Linked DNA regions of Homo sapiens: region 2 is linked to region 1. The links come from fine-mapping of genetic effects on gene expression. Tissue or cell type: aorta. Region 1 holds a variant in brackets; the other region holds the start of a gene. All regions are shown on one strand. Distances are between the middles of the regions.

The links. PIP is the estimated chance that this variant, and not a neighbour inherited with it, causes the effect.
Region 2: it holds the start of MRPL45, and the variant in region 1 is fine-mapped to the expression of MRPL45 in aorta (GTEx, PIP 0.95).

What each region holds. Positions count from the first base shown.
Region 1 is chr17:38,246,929-38,255,032 of GRCh38, reverse strand. It overlaps the pseudogene NPEPPSP1. Among named protein-coding and RNA genes, the nearest start is that of MRPL45, 46 kb to the left of the region's middle. The variant C/G (reference allele first, on the strand shown) is at 3,631.
Region 2 is chr17:38,292,503-38,300,606 of GRCh38, reverse strand. It overlaps MRPL45 (mitochondrial ribosomal protein L45), which reads right to left and starts at 3,439. Exons shown (of 8, transcript NM_032351.6): 1 at 3,358-3,439; 2 at 1,981-2,158; 3 at 1,139-1,256. The coding sequence starts at 3,423. LOC105371760 (a long non-coding RNA gene) reads left to right here and starts at 5,002. Exons shown (of 3, transcript XR_934732.2): 1 at 5,002-5,113. RefSeq lists enhancers at 3,004-3,554, 3,555-4,103.

The DNA of each region.
Region 1 (8,104 bases):
GGGAGGGATTGTAAACAGTAGTGTGTCTTGTGACTTGGCAAACCTTTGGGAAAGAGAACCTAGTGATGAATGAGTTCGCATTATGTGAAAAGACTAACATTAAAAAAAACATTTGTTTCTTTACCCCATTAGTTGCCAAAATGGATTCATAATTTTTGGAGGCAGACATATTTTGGGAAAAGTCTAGAAAAAAGTACAGATTTTTAAATAATTACTTATTAAAGAAGTGAGTTTGATTTAAGTATCGGGATAGAACAACAAGCAGTGACATGTTTCTCCTTACCTCTTTTCTACTTTAGTGGAAGACTGGTTTGTGCCATTGAGTGAGCATATGGTAATATACTAGATATTAGCAGGGACTTGTTAATTTGATGCAAGGAAATAAATAAAAAATAAATAAATTTTGTAAGTAGCATGAACTTTTCAAAACACTTTTTTTCCAGAAATTCTTTTCAGGCTAGATGGCAACACAAAGATGACGCAATAGTGAATTCCAACAGGTTTTATTAAAGGATGATTGGACTTTTAAATTGTACTAATTGACATGTTTGGAAGGGTAAAAAAATTAACATTGGTAAGAAGTAAAAAGCATATATTAATGTTTTTGAAATCCATGAATTAGAGCAATACGTTTAAATTGTGGCATTAGGTGGTATCTTGTGGGAATTTTAAAATATTCACAAAATTCTTTTTTTTTTTTTGAGATGGAGTCTCGCTCTGTCGCCCAGGCTGGAGTGCAGTGGCACGATCTCGCCTCACTGCAAGCTCTCTGCCTTCCGGGTTCACGCCATTCTCCTGCCTCAGCCTCCCAGGTAGCTGGGACTACAGGTGCCCGCCACTGCGCCCAGCTAATTTTTTGTATTTTTAGTAGAGATGGGGTTTTACTGTGGCCTCGACCTCCTGACCTCGTGATCTGCCCGCCTCGGCCTCCCAAAGAGCTGGGATTACGGGCGTGAGCCACTGTGCCTGGCGACAAAATTCTTTTTTTTTTTTTTTTTTTTAAATTTATTTTTTTACTGATAATTCTTGGGTGTTTCTCACAGAGGGGGATTTGGCAGGGTCATGGGACAATAGTGGAGGGAAGGTCAGCAGATAAACAAGTGAACAAAGGTCTCTGGTTTTCCTAGGCAGAGGACCCTGCGGCCTTCCGCAGTGTTTGTGTCCCTGATTACTTGAGATTAGGGATTGGTGATGACTCTTAACGAGCATGCTGCCTTCAAGCATCTGTTTAACAAAGCACATCTTGCACCGCCCTTAATCCATTTAACCCTGAGTGGACACAGCACATGTTTCAGAGAGCACAGGGTTGGGGGTAAGGTCACAGATCAACAGGATCCCAAGGCAGAGGAATTTTTCTTAGTGCAGAACAAAATGAAAAGTCTCCCATGTCTTCTACTTTCTACACAGACACAGCAACCATCCGATTTCTCAATCTTTTCCCCACCTTTCCCGCCTTTCTATTCCACAAAGCCGCCATTGTCATCCTGGCCCGTTCTCAATGAGCTGTTGGGCACACCTCCCAGACGGGGTGGTGGCCGGGCAGAGGGGCTCCTCACTTCCCAGTAGGGGTGGCCGGGCAGAGGCGCCCCTCACCTCCCGGACGGGGCGGCTGGCCGGGCAGGGGGACAAAATTCTTATCTGTAGAAACCTATATTTATGACTGATATTGGATCAGTTTCCTAACAGTTGGAATCACATAACACAAAATATGCAAGTTGCTTAGTTGCTTTAGTTACAAAATTTTACGATAAGCCCAGAGTATTTGTACAGGTTACATATTAGAAACTTAGTGGATTTATTTTATTTTTTATTTTTATTTTTTTGAGACGGAGTTTCGCTCTTTCTCCCAGGTTGGAGTGAAGTGGTGTGATCTCGACTCACTGCAGCCTCCACCCTGTCCCCCTGCCGGGTTCAAGTGAGTCTCCTTGCCTCAGCCTCCTGGGTAGCTGGGACTACAGGTGTGTGCCATCACGCCCAACTAATTTTTGTATTTTTAGTAGAGATGGGGTTTTGCCATGTTGGCCAGGCTGGTCTCGAACTCCTGACCTCAGGTGATCCCCTTCCCTTGGCCTCCCAAAGGGCTGGGATTATAGGCATGAGCCACCATGCCCGGCCAACTTAGTGGATTTTTAACCTGGCCTGGGGTGTGGACTGCTGCAGAAGGTGAAGAAATTAGTCCATGTTCAGTGATTTAAAAATTAGTTGTCTTGGCCGGGCACGGTGGCTCACACCTGTAATCCCAGCACTCTGGGAGGCCGAGGCGGGCGGATCACGAGGTCAGGAGATCGAGACCATCCTGGCTAACATGGTGAAACCCCATCTCTACTAAAATACAAAAAATTAGCTGGGCGTGGTGGCGGGAGCCTGTAGTCCCAGCTACTCAGGAGCCTGAGGCAGGAGAATGGCGTGAATCTGGGAGGCGGAGCTTGCAGTGAGCTGAGATTGCGCCACTGCACTCCAGCCTGGGCGACACAGCAAGACTCTGTCTCAAAAAAAAAAAAAAAAAAAAAAAAATTAGTTGTCTTTCACATTAGTGTGGTCTAGCTGGTTTTGAAAATTTGTTATTATACAGAAGTTTCTCTAGGCCCAAAATTTATTTCATTCCCTGTCCCCTCCCTTTACACTGGATACTTGAGAGCAGTGGACTTTTGTAGATATTTCATATTTTGATCCTCTCCGTTTGTGGATAATTAATTAAAATGAATTATAAGTTTATGTGTGTGACTACTATTTATGATTATGAGTGTGTAGTGGTTGGTACAATAATTGGGTATTCTTTTTTTTTTTTTTTTTTTTGAGATGGAGTCTTGCTCTGTCACCCAGGCTGGAGTGCAGTGGTGCGATCTTGGCTCACTGCAGCCTCTGCCTCCCGGGTTCAAGCAATTCTCCTGCCTCAGCCTCCTGAGTAGCTGGGACTACAGGCACGCGCCGCCATGCCTGGCTGATTTTTTTGTATTTTTAGTGGAGATGGGGTTTCACCATATTAGCCAGGATGGTCTTGATCTCCTGACCTCATTCCATCTTCCTCGGCCTCCCACAGTGTTGGGATTACAGGCGTGAGCCACCGTGCCCAGCTGGGCTTTCTCTTATGGAAATACTTTACCTGTGCCAGAGAAACTAAGTTTATCATTCAAGGCCAGAAATCAGGATATCCTAGCCAACCCCTGGCCTCTACTAACAAAATATTCATGTTGGAGATAACTAAATTGGCACTAAGTGAAGAGTTGCCAATATAGAAGTTTGTTTGGCATATTAAAAATTTGGCACCTGAATGGTTATTGTCAATTCTGTGTTACAAATTTTTTGCCCAAATTCTGCATATTTTCTCTTTTTTTTTTTTTTTTTTTTTTTGAGATGGAGTTTCGCTCTTGTTGCCCAGGCTGGAGTGCAGTGGCATGATCTCAGCTCACTGCAGCCTCCACCCCCCCAGGTTCAGGCAGTTCTCCTGCCTTAGCCTCCCAAATAGCTGGGATTACAGGCATGTGCCACCACGCCCAGCTAATTTTTTCTGTTTTTAGTAGAGACGGGGTTTCTCCATGTTGGTCAGGCTGGTCTCGAACTCCTGACCTCCGGTGATCCACCTGCCTCAGCCTCCCAAAGTGCTGGGATGATGGGCGTGAGCCACCGAGC[C/G]ACCGTGCCTGGCTTCTTTTTTTTTTTTTTGAGACGGAGTTTTGCTCTTGTTGCCCAGGCTGGAGTTCAATGGCGCGATCTCGGCTCACCGCAACCTCTGCCTCCCAGGCTCAAGCGTTTCTCTTGCCCCAGCCTCCAGAGTAGCTGGGATTACAGGCGCGCACCACCAAGCCCAGCTAATTTTTTGTATTTTTAGTAGAGAGAGGGTTTCATCATGTTGGCTAGGCTGGTCTCAAACTCCTGACCTCAGGTGATCCACCCGCCTTGGCCTCTCAAAATGCCGGGATCACAGGCATGAGCCACCGTGCCTGGCCATTTTCTGCATATCTTCTATGTAATCATTTTGGCCGACACTGTGGCTCACTCCTGTAATCTTAGCACTTTGGGAGGTGGAGGTGGGAGAATTGCTTGAGCACAGGAGTTTGATACCAGTGTGGGCAACATAGCAAGACCCTGTCTCCAGGGAAAAAAAAAAAAGGAAGAAATTTTCTTAAAAAAAATTCATATATATAAAATTAAATTCAAAATATTGGTGATAAGGAATTGAATTTGTTCAGATTTTCTGTTTTTTGAAATGTATCTATGAGGAAAGAAGTATAATAGTTTTGTATGCTAAGCTTTGTCTAATTCATCTGGCAATGAATTCTGCAGTGATTTTTCCAGATAACTGAAGTTTACCCTTTGAGGCCCTTAGACATTTTTAAAAAAGTTTACTAGGCTGGGTGTGGTGGCTCACGCCTGTAATCCCAGCACTTTGGGAGGCTGAGGTGGGTGGATCATGAGGTCAGAAGTTTGAGACCAGCCTGGACAACATGATGAAACCCCATCTCTACAAAAAAATACAACAATTAGCCGGGCGTGGTGGCACATGCCTGTAATCCCAGCTACTCGGGAAGCTGAGACAGGAGAATTGCTTGAACTCAGGAAGCGGAGGAGCGGAGGTTGCGGTGAGCTGAGATCACGCCATTGCACTCCAGCCTGGGTGACACAGCGAGACCCTGTCTTAAAAAAAAAAAAAGTTGACTAATCTGAATGGAAATATTTCTAAAATACATTATCTTTTTATGCTTTGCAATTCCTCATAGTGTAGGTTTGTTTCATTGTTTTTTTTAAATACTGAACTTTATTCTGAACATCTCTTATTGACCCCAAACTATGTACTATAATTTATCAGTTTCATGTCTGTTTTTTTTTCTTTTTTTTTCTTTTTGAGACGGAGTTTCGCTCTGTTGCCCAGGCTGGAGTGCAGTGGCACAATCTCGGCTCACTGCAACCTCTGCCTCCCGGGTTCAGGCAGTTCTCCTGCCTCAGCCTCCCTAGTAGCTGGGATTACAGGCATGCACCACCACGCCTGGCTAATTTTGTATTTTTAGTAGAGACAGGGTTTCACCATGTTGGCCAGGCTGGTCTTGAACTCCTGACATCAGGTGATCTGCCTGCCTCCGCCTGCCAAAGTGCTGGGATTACAAGTGTGAGCCACCGCGCCAAGCCATATCTGTTCTTTTTTTTTTTTTTTTTTTTTGAGACAGAGTCTCACTCTGTTGCCTAGGCCAGGCTGGAGTGTGCAGTGGTGCGATCTCGGCTCACTGCAACCTCCACTTCCCTAGTTCAAGGGATTCTCCTGCCTCAGCCTCCCTAGTAGCTGGGATTACAGGTGCATGCCACCACACCTGGCTAATTTTTGTATTTCTGTAGAGACCAGGTTTCACCATGTTAGCTAGGCTGGTCTCAAACACCCGACCTCAGGTGATCCGCCCGCCTCTGCCTCCCAAAGTGCTGGGATTACAGGCATGACCCACCGCGCCTAGTCCATATCTGTTCTTTTTTTTTTTTTTTTTTTTTTGAGACAGAGTCTTGCTCTGTTGCCAAGGCCGGAGTGCAGTGGCGTGATCTCAGCTCACTGCAACCTCCGCCTCCCGGGTTTAAGCGATTCTCCTGCCTCATCCAAGTAGCTGGGACTACAGGCACCTGCCATCATGCCAGGCTAATTTTTGAATTTTTAGTAGAGAAGGGGTTTCACCATATTGGCCAGGCTGGTCTCGAACTCGTGACCTTGTGATCCACCCGCCTCGGCCTCCCAAAGTGCTGGGATTACAGGCCTGAGCCACCGCACCCGGCTAGCCTGTGTCTGTTCTTTAAAATTGTTTTGTTTTCCTTACTCTCAGATTCTTCTTGCTGCTTATTGTGCCTTGTTGCTGCCTGTTGTGCAATTTCTTCCCTCTTGTATTTTACTGAACTTCATCTGAAGAAGCCTTAGTAGCCAGATAAACAAGCTTGTTTGGGCTAAAAAATCAATTGCTGTGTGAGAGTTTGTTGGATTCTCTTCTGAGTAAAGGGTATGTGTTTTATTGTACGGACTTTGTATCACCTATTTTGGCTTTTCATCCAGGCCTTTTTTTTTTTCTTTCTTTTTAGCTTCCTGGTTCTAGATACAACTGATACTCTGATACAACCTGGGTAAATGTGGTCTTGAGTAGTAAATTATCTGTGAAGCTTCTCCGAACTTTGCCACATAAATGAGCCTGCTCTTGTTGTGAAGTAAATCTTACTCTAATCTGTATGTGAGTCAGTGGGAAATAACTGAGCCTTCGGATGGCTTTTGTTGTTAACTGAGATTAGTTCTCTAGATTTTAGTGATTTTGTTTTGAACACCATACAAGTATGTGGTTCTTGGTTTATTTGGTCACTTGTAATCTCTTTAAAATTTTATTTTAAATTAGGAAGTATTTTAGAAATACAAGAAAGTCACACACTATGAGATTAAACAGATGTTAACATTTTGCCCCATTTTCATCAGACTGTGCATGCTTTTTTTGGGGGGGAATAAAATGTCACAGATACCACTAAAGCCCGTTTCCATCTCGTCCCACCCTGCCTCTAGAAGTAACTTCTTTCTTCAGGTAGGTGCGTATTATTCCTTTTTATTCCTACGTATAGTTTAAAACTTTAATTGCATATTAGTAGCCACAAACATCACATACCAATATTCTGTGCCTTTTGCATTTTTACATTAATGGTAATTATTTTTGACCTTCTGCAAATGGCTCTTTTCAGTGTTTCTTGTTAGAAAACTTGGCTCAACTTGAGTTTACTAATTATCTGCTTCTTCTTGTCTTTAGCTATTATAGAACTGTTCCACCAAGGCAACAATTATTGCTATTTTAATGGTGAAATCAGTTTTATTAGGCAAATTGACTCAGGCTTCAGACTGGCATTTGGAATTGTCACACTGGAGATTTTCTTTTACTGAAGTCTCAGGACATTGACAATCAGAAAAAAACCCTCTTGAGTCTTACTATCGTACATGTAAGATATGTTCCTGAGTGACTATAGTAAAGACTCATTCAGGAAAATGTTATCTCCGATTTCTGCCTCCCTAGCTCATAGGAAACTTCCATTGTAAAGTTGTTACCAGGCGTCAAGCTGCCTCTTTGGTACAGCCCTTACTTAGTATTTGGCTCAGTTGAAGTGCAGTCTATATAGGAGGCCAAGAAGACTTAATCCTGGGTTTGAAACAAAGCAAGGATACACTAACATTCTATCCTTTAATAACATCAAGTAGAAAAATTGAAAATGAGCTTGTTATCAGTGCACTTTTATATGCCAACCTTGTTTCACTTGTGTTTTAAACTGGGAAACTGAAGATTTTAATGCTGAAATTTCTTTGAATTATTACCTGTTTTTTTGATAGTGGAACACACAGCTAATATTTACTAATATGAAGGTGTCAAAGGTGAGAAATCATGTACTACACCATCAGGTCAGCACTACTGTTTGGAAGAGCAGCATCACAAAGAGCAGTGTTATACTGCGTTGTAGTCAGCACATACACTTATGTCCAGACAGATATTTTAAATTACCTTCTTGGGGTAGTACACATATGCTGATATCCAAAGTGCCATATAATACAATACATAGTTTTTAAACTTCATATCATTCTGATCAGAAGCTTTATAAACTGTTAGGTGAATGCTGTTAGATGATATGAGAGCACAATTTAACCTGTGTGTGTGTATATGTATGTCTTAACATCTATTAAGTGATGACTACATATGAGGCACTAAGTGCTAAAACAGAGACTTTACATAGATTATCCCATTATTGGTCAACTTTTTAAATAAGTGCATCTCTAATATAAGACAAGATGCTGACCAATTTTTAAAATGTGAATGGATTTCTATTTTTAAGATAAGTACCTTTGTTCCTTTGGTTCCTCCCTCCCACCCTTCCAGAAATGGTAGTATCCTGGAAAAAAAAAATTAGTAGCAATTCAAGAAACAGCTTAATTCATTAGTATAAATAGATGAGTTTCCCCTAAACACAGGAGGAGTTGGAAGGTACTTGAAATTGGATGTTGTGCATGGTGCCTTTCCAAAATGCACAAATACTTTCTCTCAAATGGTTGCAGTAGTAATGTGCTGTGTGATTTGGCATGTATAATGTTGTACAGGTATCTTGACATTGGTGGATTAAC
Region 2 (8,104 bases), 46 kb before region 1:
AATATACTTATGCACATAAACCTATACATGATTTACATATAGTGACAGCGGCTACTCTGGGCACAGTGGCCTATGGGGTAGCCCTGCTCTGCAATGAACAGTACAAATTTAAAAAAAAAGATAGATACAGTCAGAGCTAGACTGGCTGGGTGTGACGGGTCACACCTGTAATCCCAGAATTTTGGGAGGCTGAGGTGGGAGGACTGCTTGAGCCCAGGAGTTCGAGACCAGCCTGGGCAACATAGTGATAACCCGTCTCTACAAAAATTTCTTTTAAAAATTAGCCAGGTCGGCTGGGCGCAGTGGCTCACGCCTGTAATCCCAGCACTTCAGGAGGCTGAGGTGGGTGGATCACGAGGTCAAGAGATCGAGACCATCTTGGCCAACATGGTGAAACCCCGTCTTTACTAAAAATACAAAAATTAGCTGGGCGTGGTGGCATGCGTCTGTAGTCCAGCTACTCGGGAGGCTGAGGCAGGAGAATCTCTTGAACCCGGGAGGCAGAGGTTGCAGTGAGTTAAGAGTGAAACTCCGTCTCAAAATAAATAAATAAATAAATAAATAAAGGGCTGGGCGTGGTGGCTCTCACCTGTAATCCCAGCACTTTGGGAGGCCAAGGCGGGCCTCCTGAGGTCAGGAGTTCAAGACCAGCCTGACCAACAGACCAACATGGAGAAACCACATCTCTACTAAAAATACAAAATTAGCCGGGCATGGTGGCACATGCCTGTAATCCCAGCTACTCAGGAGGCTGAGGCAGGAGGATCATTTGAATCCAGGAGGCGGAGGTTGCGGTGAGCCAAGATCGTGCCATTGCATTCTAGTCTGGGCAACAAGAGCGAAACTCCATCTCAAAAAAAAAAAAATTAAATATATGATTAAAAAAGGATCCTATACACTCCAAAGTCAACTCCCTAACTGATATGACAAAAATTACCAATAAAGGCAGGGATGCTGAGAATCAGGAAGCCCACATTATTCTGCATTAAATACAGACTCTAGTACAAAGGAGAAAATACCATCATGTTATTAAGAGAATGACACCCAACCCAATTAACCCAAAAAGGTCTCTTTGGGATAAAGTAGCAACAAAAAATTGTTATTCTAATACCAATACCCAATTGTCTCAGACACCTACGACACTTGTGATGCCATAGTCTTCTTCATTCGTTCAGTTCTCTCTATCAGTCCCTCCTTTGAAAGAGATGATATGCGTGCATCACCCTCAGGAGGAACATAGGCATCAAATATACCAGCTGTAATAAAGGAAGAAAAAAATTAAGAAAGTGTTGAAAGATTGAGAAAAACTCATAAAATTGAAGTAATGTAAAATTGGGAAGGATTGTGGATATGAAGTAGACTAATGAAACAGACTTCCATGTAGAGAGAACTATGTTACACTAGAAAAAAACAAAACAAGGCCGGGCACAGTGGCTCACACCTGTAATCCCAGTACTTTGGGAGGCCGAGGCGGGCGGATCACAAAGTCAGGAATTCAAGACCAGCCTGGCCAAGATGGTGAAACCCCATCTCTACTAAAAATACAAAAATTAGCCGGGCATGGTGGCAGGTGCCTGTAATCCCAGCTACTTGGAAGGCTGAGGTAGGAGAATCGCTTGAACCCAGGGGGGCAGAGGTTGCAGTGAGCCCAGATTGTGCCACTGGGCGACAGAACGAGACTCTGTCTCAAAAAACAAAACAAAACAAAACAAAAAAAGCCAGAAAGATTTAAGTCTTCTCTCAGAGCCTCAGTTTCTACTTCCACAAAATGGAGAAATTTCACTCTTGCCTTCTAGGGACAGTGTGAAAGTAAGTTCAAAGAACAACTTCATGATATATAGTGTATATAAGGTTAATCATTATTGAGGTTGAACTGACTTCGTGCTTAATTAAATATTATCAATCATAGTCCAAGTCATCCCAAGTTCCAGAAGATCTCTGACAGAAGGATCCCAGGTCAGGGTCCCAGAAATACCTCACCTGTACAGGCCAGATGTATGGAACGGTCCGATTTTTCTGGAGGAATAACCAATCCTGCTTTCCGGGCATGTTGCATAAACTCCTTTTCTGTTTTAAATTTAGGTTGATAAATAGGAGGTGTGAAACGTTTTTTAGTTCTTACTGGAACTATAGCTGCGGACTGAGTCACCAGAACTGGCTGGAAGGTAAAGGAAAGGTTAGGAACCTAGAAAAAAGATCTACTATCTTTTACAAACTCTAAGCAAAGCACTATAGAGAGGGAATATCCAAAGAATGCTTCAGGAACAATTATAAAACAATATCACAGGGAAAAAATGCATTAGGACCTTAATACTTATGGGTGTCTCTAAATAGAAGACAGTTAGCAACCTTTATTAACATCACATTTACTAAAGGCTTTCCTTTAGAACTTCCCACAGTACAGGACTATGCTAACTCCTACGGATACTGAGTTGATCAAAGCAAGTTTCAAAAACTGATGGTGATGGGGAAACACCAACTCAATACTGAAATGGGCAGAATACTATTCTTTATTATTTTTTGAGGCAGATCGCTAGCCTAGAGTGCGATGGCACGATCACGGTTCACTGCAGCCTTGACCTCCTGGGCTCTAGCTATCCTCCCACCGCAGCCTCCCAAGTAGCTGGGACTAAGGAGTGCGCCATCGCATCTGGCTAATTTTAAAATTTTTTTGTAAAGACCAGGTCTTATATGTTGCCCAGGCTCATTTCGAACTCCTGGGCTCAAGCCATCCTTCTGCCTCGGACTTTCAAAGTGCTGGGATTACAAGTGTGAACCACCGCGCCGGGCCCTGAATGCTATGCTTAAAGCATAAGCAAAGTCCTCTTGTAGGCATCTGCTCCATATGTACTCGTGATATTTTGCTCATCCTATCGGGAGTCTCGCTGTAAACTTTATTCTGTCGTTTTAGCACCCAACTGACCAATAAACCCTCGAAAGATCAGGAGATCTTTTCTCTCTGATCATGAGGTTTGCTCAGACGGGGCAGTGACAATATGGGACGCCCTCATTTTCGGCTACTCTTCAACGTAGTTCACTTATAAGAATCGAAGATTAGGGAGTCCACCTTCCAACCCATTACTTGTCTCTCCTTTAATATCTCCTCGCCAGACAGACCCAAACCAATCCGGAAAAACTTAATATCCGTTAATTCACTCGCTCTCATGGCCCTGTCTAGGCTATCCCCATTCGACCACTGAGCTCCGCAGCTAGGTCCTGTCCACCTAAGCCTCTTCCCCGGCCTAGGTATGACTCGTATTGTCCCAGCTCACCAAGGACAATTGCACAGAGAGTATTTCCCTCGACTCTGTCCTCTCCTGTAGCCCCTAGGGTCCTATCGGCCCCGTCCCTACCCACCTGCCGAGACCACCAGCCCAAAAACCTCGATAAACAAGAGAACCCTTGAGGTATGGGGGCTGCCATCTTGTTCCCGCAAAGGCCGCCGGGAAGGGAGCTGAGAGTGAAGAGCGTCGGGTAGGAGAAAAGCCGCATAGGGTGGAGCTAGCACAGGAGTGGAATTTTCCAGGGAGCGCGCCCTCCGCCGAAATGTGAGCAGCGAGGACGCGCACGTGCTCGCGGGAGTGGGGGAGGGTGGAGTAAGGAGGGCGGAGTACGGCCGCGCGTGCGCAGGGAGACAACGTTGGGCGTAGGGTGGAACGAACTGTTGTCCCCCGCCAGCGAGAGAGCGCTTGAACGCGAGCTGCGCCTGCGCCCGAGGCTTTCTGAAGGCCGGGGAATGGGCATTGCTGTATGCTTGGCACATTGCCGTTTATTCCATTAGTTAAAAAAGGAAAAGGAGGCCGGGCGCGGTGGCTCACGCCTGTAATCCCAGCACTTTGGGAGGCCGAGACCGGTGGATCACCTGAAGTCAGGAGTTCGAGACCAGCCTGGCCAAAATGACGAAACCCCGTCTCTACTAAAAATACAAAAATTAGCCGGGCGTGGTGGCACACGCCTGTAGTCCCAGCTGCTTGTAAGGCTGAGGCAGGAGAATCGCTTGAACCCAGGAGGCAGAGGTTGCAGTGAGCCGAGATCGCGCCACTGACTCCAGCCAGAGCTAGACTCCGTCTAAAAAAAAAAAAAAAAAATTAGTCGTAGGGTGGAACGCACGGTTGTCATGCGCCAGCAAGAGAGCGCCGGGCTTGGTGGCAGGCGGCTGTAGTCTGAGCTACTTGGGAGGCTAAGGCAGGAGAATCCCTCGAACACAGGAGGCGGAGGCTGCAGTGATCCGAGATCCCGCCACTGCACTCCAGCGTCGGTGACAGAGAAAGACTTTGTCTCAAAAAAAAACAAAAAAAGAGATTGACTACTGTCTTCTACTATGTTTACTAAAGCAGAAGACACGTGAATTGACAAAAACATTTGTGATTTGTCATTTCGGAAAGGAGTCACAGAGCAATTACGTAATTTACTTAAGGTTAGATAGATGATAACTGGCAGAACCGAGATTTGAATCTAAGCAGTCTAATTCCAGAACCCATGCAGGTAACTGCTACGTGCTGCTTCATGTTAAGTTGTTAAAGGATTCGTGATGTTGGGATCACCCTGGTAAATTCAGTAGTGTAAACGTTGCTGAAAGGCAGACACTTTCCACACTTAGCCGTTGGTTATTATTCTGCCAATTACAGCTTACAGAGTTCTCATCTACAATATTTTGCAATAAGTTAGGAGCTACAGGCTGTACATACAAGAAATTTCAGGCTGAAGTAGAATTGCTACAAAGGTCGAAGCAAAGTGCTGGGGACTATCAGAAGAACTGAAAGATTACTTTTGGGTTTGGAGATCACGTGTTGTTGTTGTTTTTGGAGACGGAGTCTCACTCTGTCACCCAGGCTGGAGTGCGGTGGCACAATCTCGGCTCACTGCAACCTCTGCCTCCCAGGTTCAAGCGATTCTCCTGCCTCAGCCGCCAGAGTAACTGGGATTACAGGTGCACGCTGCCATGCCCGGCTAATTTTTTCTAGTTTAGTAGAGACGAGGTTTCACCGTGTTGCCCAGGCTGGTCTCCAACTCCTGAGCTCCGGCAATCCGCCCACCTCGGCCTCCCAAAGTGCAAGGATTACAGGCGTTTTTTAAAGCTTGACTTCGCAGCTATATCGTACATTCTTATGTGGTAAGTATTTCCCTACAAGTTCCAGCCACAGTATTGAACCTATAGCACGACACATTAATAGTGACATGAAATTAGTGCTGTATGTATGTGTTGAAGAGTATGTGGGGTCGTGTGGGGTGGCTCACACTTGTAATCCCAGCACTTTGAGAGGCGGAAGTGGGTTAGATCCCTTGAGTCCAGGAGTTCAAGACCAGCCTGCCCAATATGGCAAAACCCTATCTCTACAAAAAAATTAAAAAATTAGGCCGGGTGCGGTGGCTCACACCTGTAATCCCTGCACTTTGGGAGGCCGAGGCAGGCGAATCACGAGGTCAGGAGATTGAGACCATCCTGGCTAACATGGTGAAACCCCGTCTCTACTAAAAATACAAAAAAAATTAGCCGGGCATGGTGGCAGACGCCTGTAGTCCCAGCTACTCCAGAGGCTGAGACAGGAGAATGGAGTGAACCTGGGAGGCGGAGCTTGCAGTGAGCCGAGATTGTGCCACTGAACTCCAGCCTGAGCGACAGAGCAAGACTCCGTCTCAAAAAAAAAAAAAAAAAAAAATAGCTGGGCATGGTGGCCCCAGCTACTGGGGAGGCTGAGGTGGGAGGATGGCTTAAGTCCAGGAGGCAGAGGTTGCAGTAAGCCAAGATCCCACCACTGCACTCCAGCCTGGGCAACAGAGCTATTCAGTGCCTATAGAAGCATAGGGAAACAAGAAAAAAGAAAAAAATAGAATATATGTTATTAAGCATTTAAATAAGCTATATCTGATTATTTAACAGACTCCTGTCCACCTACTCTAATCCCTAGAAAATAAAACATGATTTTTTTTTTCTCTTGAGACAGTTTTCACTCGTCAGCCAGGATGGAATGCGATAGCGCAATCTTGGCTCGCTGCAACCTCCATCTCTCGGGTTCAAGTGATTCTCCTGCCTCAGCCTCCCAAGTAACTGGGATTACAGGTGCCCACCACCACGCCCAGCTAATTTTTTGTATTTTTAGTAGAGATGGGGTTTCACCATGTTGGCCGGGATGGTCTCAAACTCCTGACCTCAGGTGATCCGCCCACCTCGGCCTCTCAAATTGCTGGGATTACAGGGGTGAGCCACCGTGCCCGGCCAAAACATGAATTATTTTTACTGGTATTCCCAACCAAAGTGAGGAAAGTTTACTCCATGGATGAGAGGTGTTTTTTTTGTTTGTTTTTTTGTTTTTTTTCAGATGCAGTTTCACTCTGTCATCCAGGCTGGAGTGCAATAGCTCGATCTCAGTTCACTGCGACCTCTGCCCCCTGGGTTCAAGCGATTCTCCTGCCTCAGTCCCCCGAGTAGCTGGGATTACAGGTGCCTGCCACTATGCCTGGCTAATTTTTGTATTTTTAGTAGAGATAGGGTTTCACCACATCGCCAGGCTGATCTCTAATTCCTGACCTCAGGTGATCCATCTGCCTCGGCCTCCCAGAGTTCTGGGATTACAGGCGTGAGCCACCGCGCCTGGCCAAGATTATTGATTAATGCAGAACATTAATATAATTTATCTTAGATTACTTCCTCCACCATTGAGTTTTATGTTAGCCTCACACAGTAGCCAACACATCCCAGATCATCTCTGCCCACCCTCTGATCAGTTTCTCAGTTAATACAAACTTGTTCCATATCAGCCTGGATGAAATAATGATAGGGGAGTCAATATCATTTAATTGCTTAGAGATGAGCTATAAGTTAGTTTTGTTGTTGTTTGATGAGCTACTGTTTTGGAAAATTCATATCTTCCTACCTCATCAGCTTCATGGAAAATTGGGAGCTGGCCAGGCACAGTGGCTCACGCGTGTAATCCCAGCACTTCGGGAGGCTGAGGCAGGCAGATCACCTGAGGTCAGGAGCTCAAGACCAGCCTGACCAACATGGAGAAACCCCGTCTCTACTAAAAATACAAAAAATTAGCTGGGCGTGGTAGCGGGCGCCTGTAATCCCAGCTCTTCGGAAGGCTGAGGCAGGAGAATTGCTTGAACCCGGGAGGTGGAGGTTGCGGTGAGCCGAGATCATGCCATTGCACTCTAGCCTGGGCAACAAGAGCAAAACTCAATCCCCCCCAAAAAAAAAAAAAAAAAAAAAAAAGAAGAAAATTGGGAGCTGTCTGTTAGAGAAGTAACACCAAAAGGATATTTCTTTTCTTTCTTTTTTTTTTTGAGATGAAGTTTCACTTTGTTGCCCAGGCTGGCGTACAGTGGGACGATCTCGGCTCACTGCAACGTCGGCCTCCAGGTTCAAGTGATTCTCCTACCTCAGCCTCCGAAGTAGCTGGGATTACAGGTGCCCGCCACCAAGCCTGGCTAATTTTTTCTATTTTTAGTAAAGATGGGGTTTCACCGTGTTGGTCAGGCTGGTGTCGAACTCCTGACCTCAGGTGATCCACCTGCCTCATCTTCCTAAAGTGCTGGGATTACAGGCATGAGCCACCGTGCCCAGCCAAAAAGGGTATTTCTTAATCCTACAATCTTAGTAATTCACATTTCAGAAAAAGCAAGATAAAAAGATCTTGTCACGATGATGGGAGCAAGAGAAGAGAACTCATTGTGCAAGTAGAGGAAGGAATCGATTGTTAGGGGCTCAGTCTTGGCAAAGAACACTCTTGCACATAGTAGACACTCCAATATTTATTTATACAATAAGCAGATGTGAAGAATTCCAGTTGAAATATGATGGGGCAGGCCGGGCGCGGTGGCTCACGCCTGTAATCCCAGCACTTTGGGAGGCCGAGGCGGGTGAATCACGAGGTCAGGAGATCGAGACCATCCTGGCTAACACGGAAACCCCATCTCTACTGAAAATACAAAAAATTAGTCGGGCGCGGTGGCAGGCGCCTGTAGTCCCAGCTACTCAGGAGGCTGAGGCAGGAGAATGGCATGAACCCAGGAGGCGGAGCTTGAAGTGAGCAGAGATCTGGCCACTGCACTCCAGCCTGGGCGAAAAAGCGACACTCCATCTCAAAAAAAAAAAAAAAGA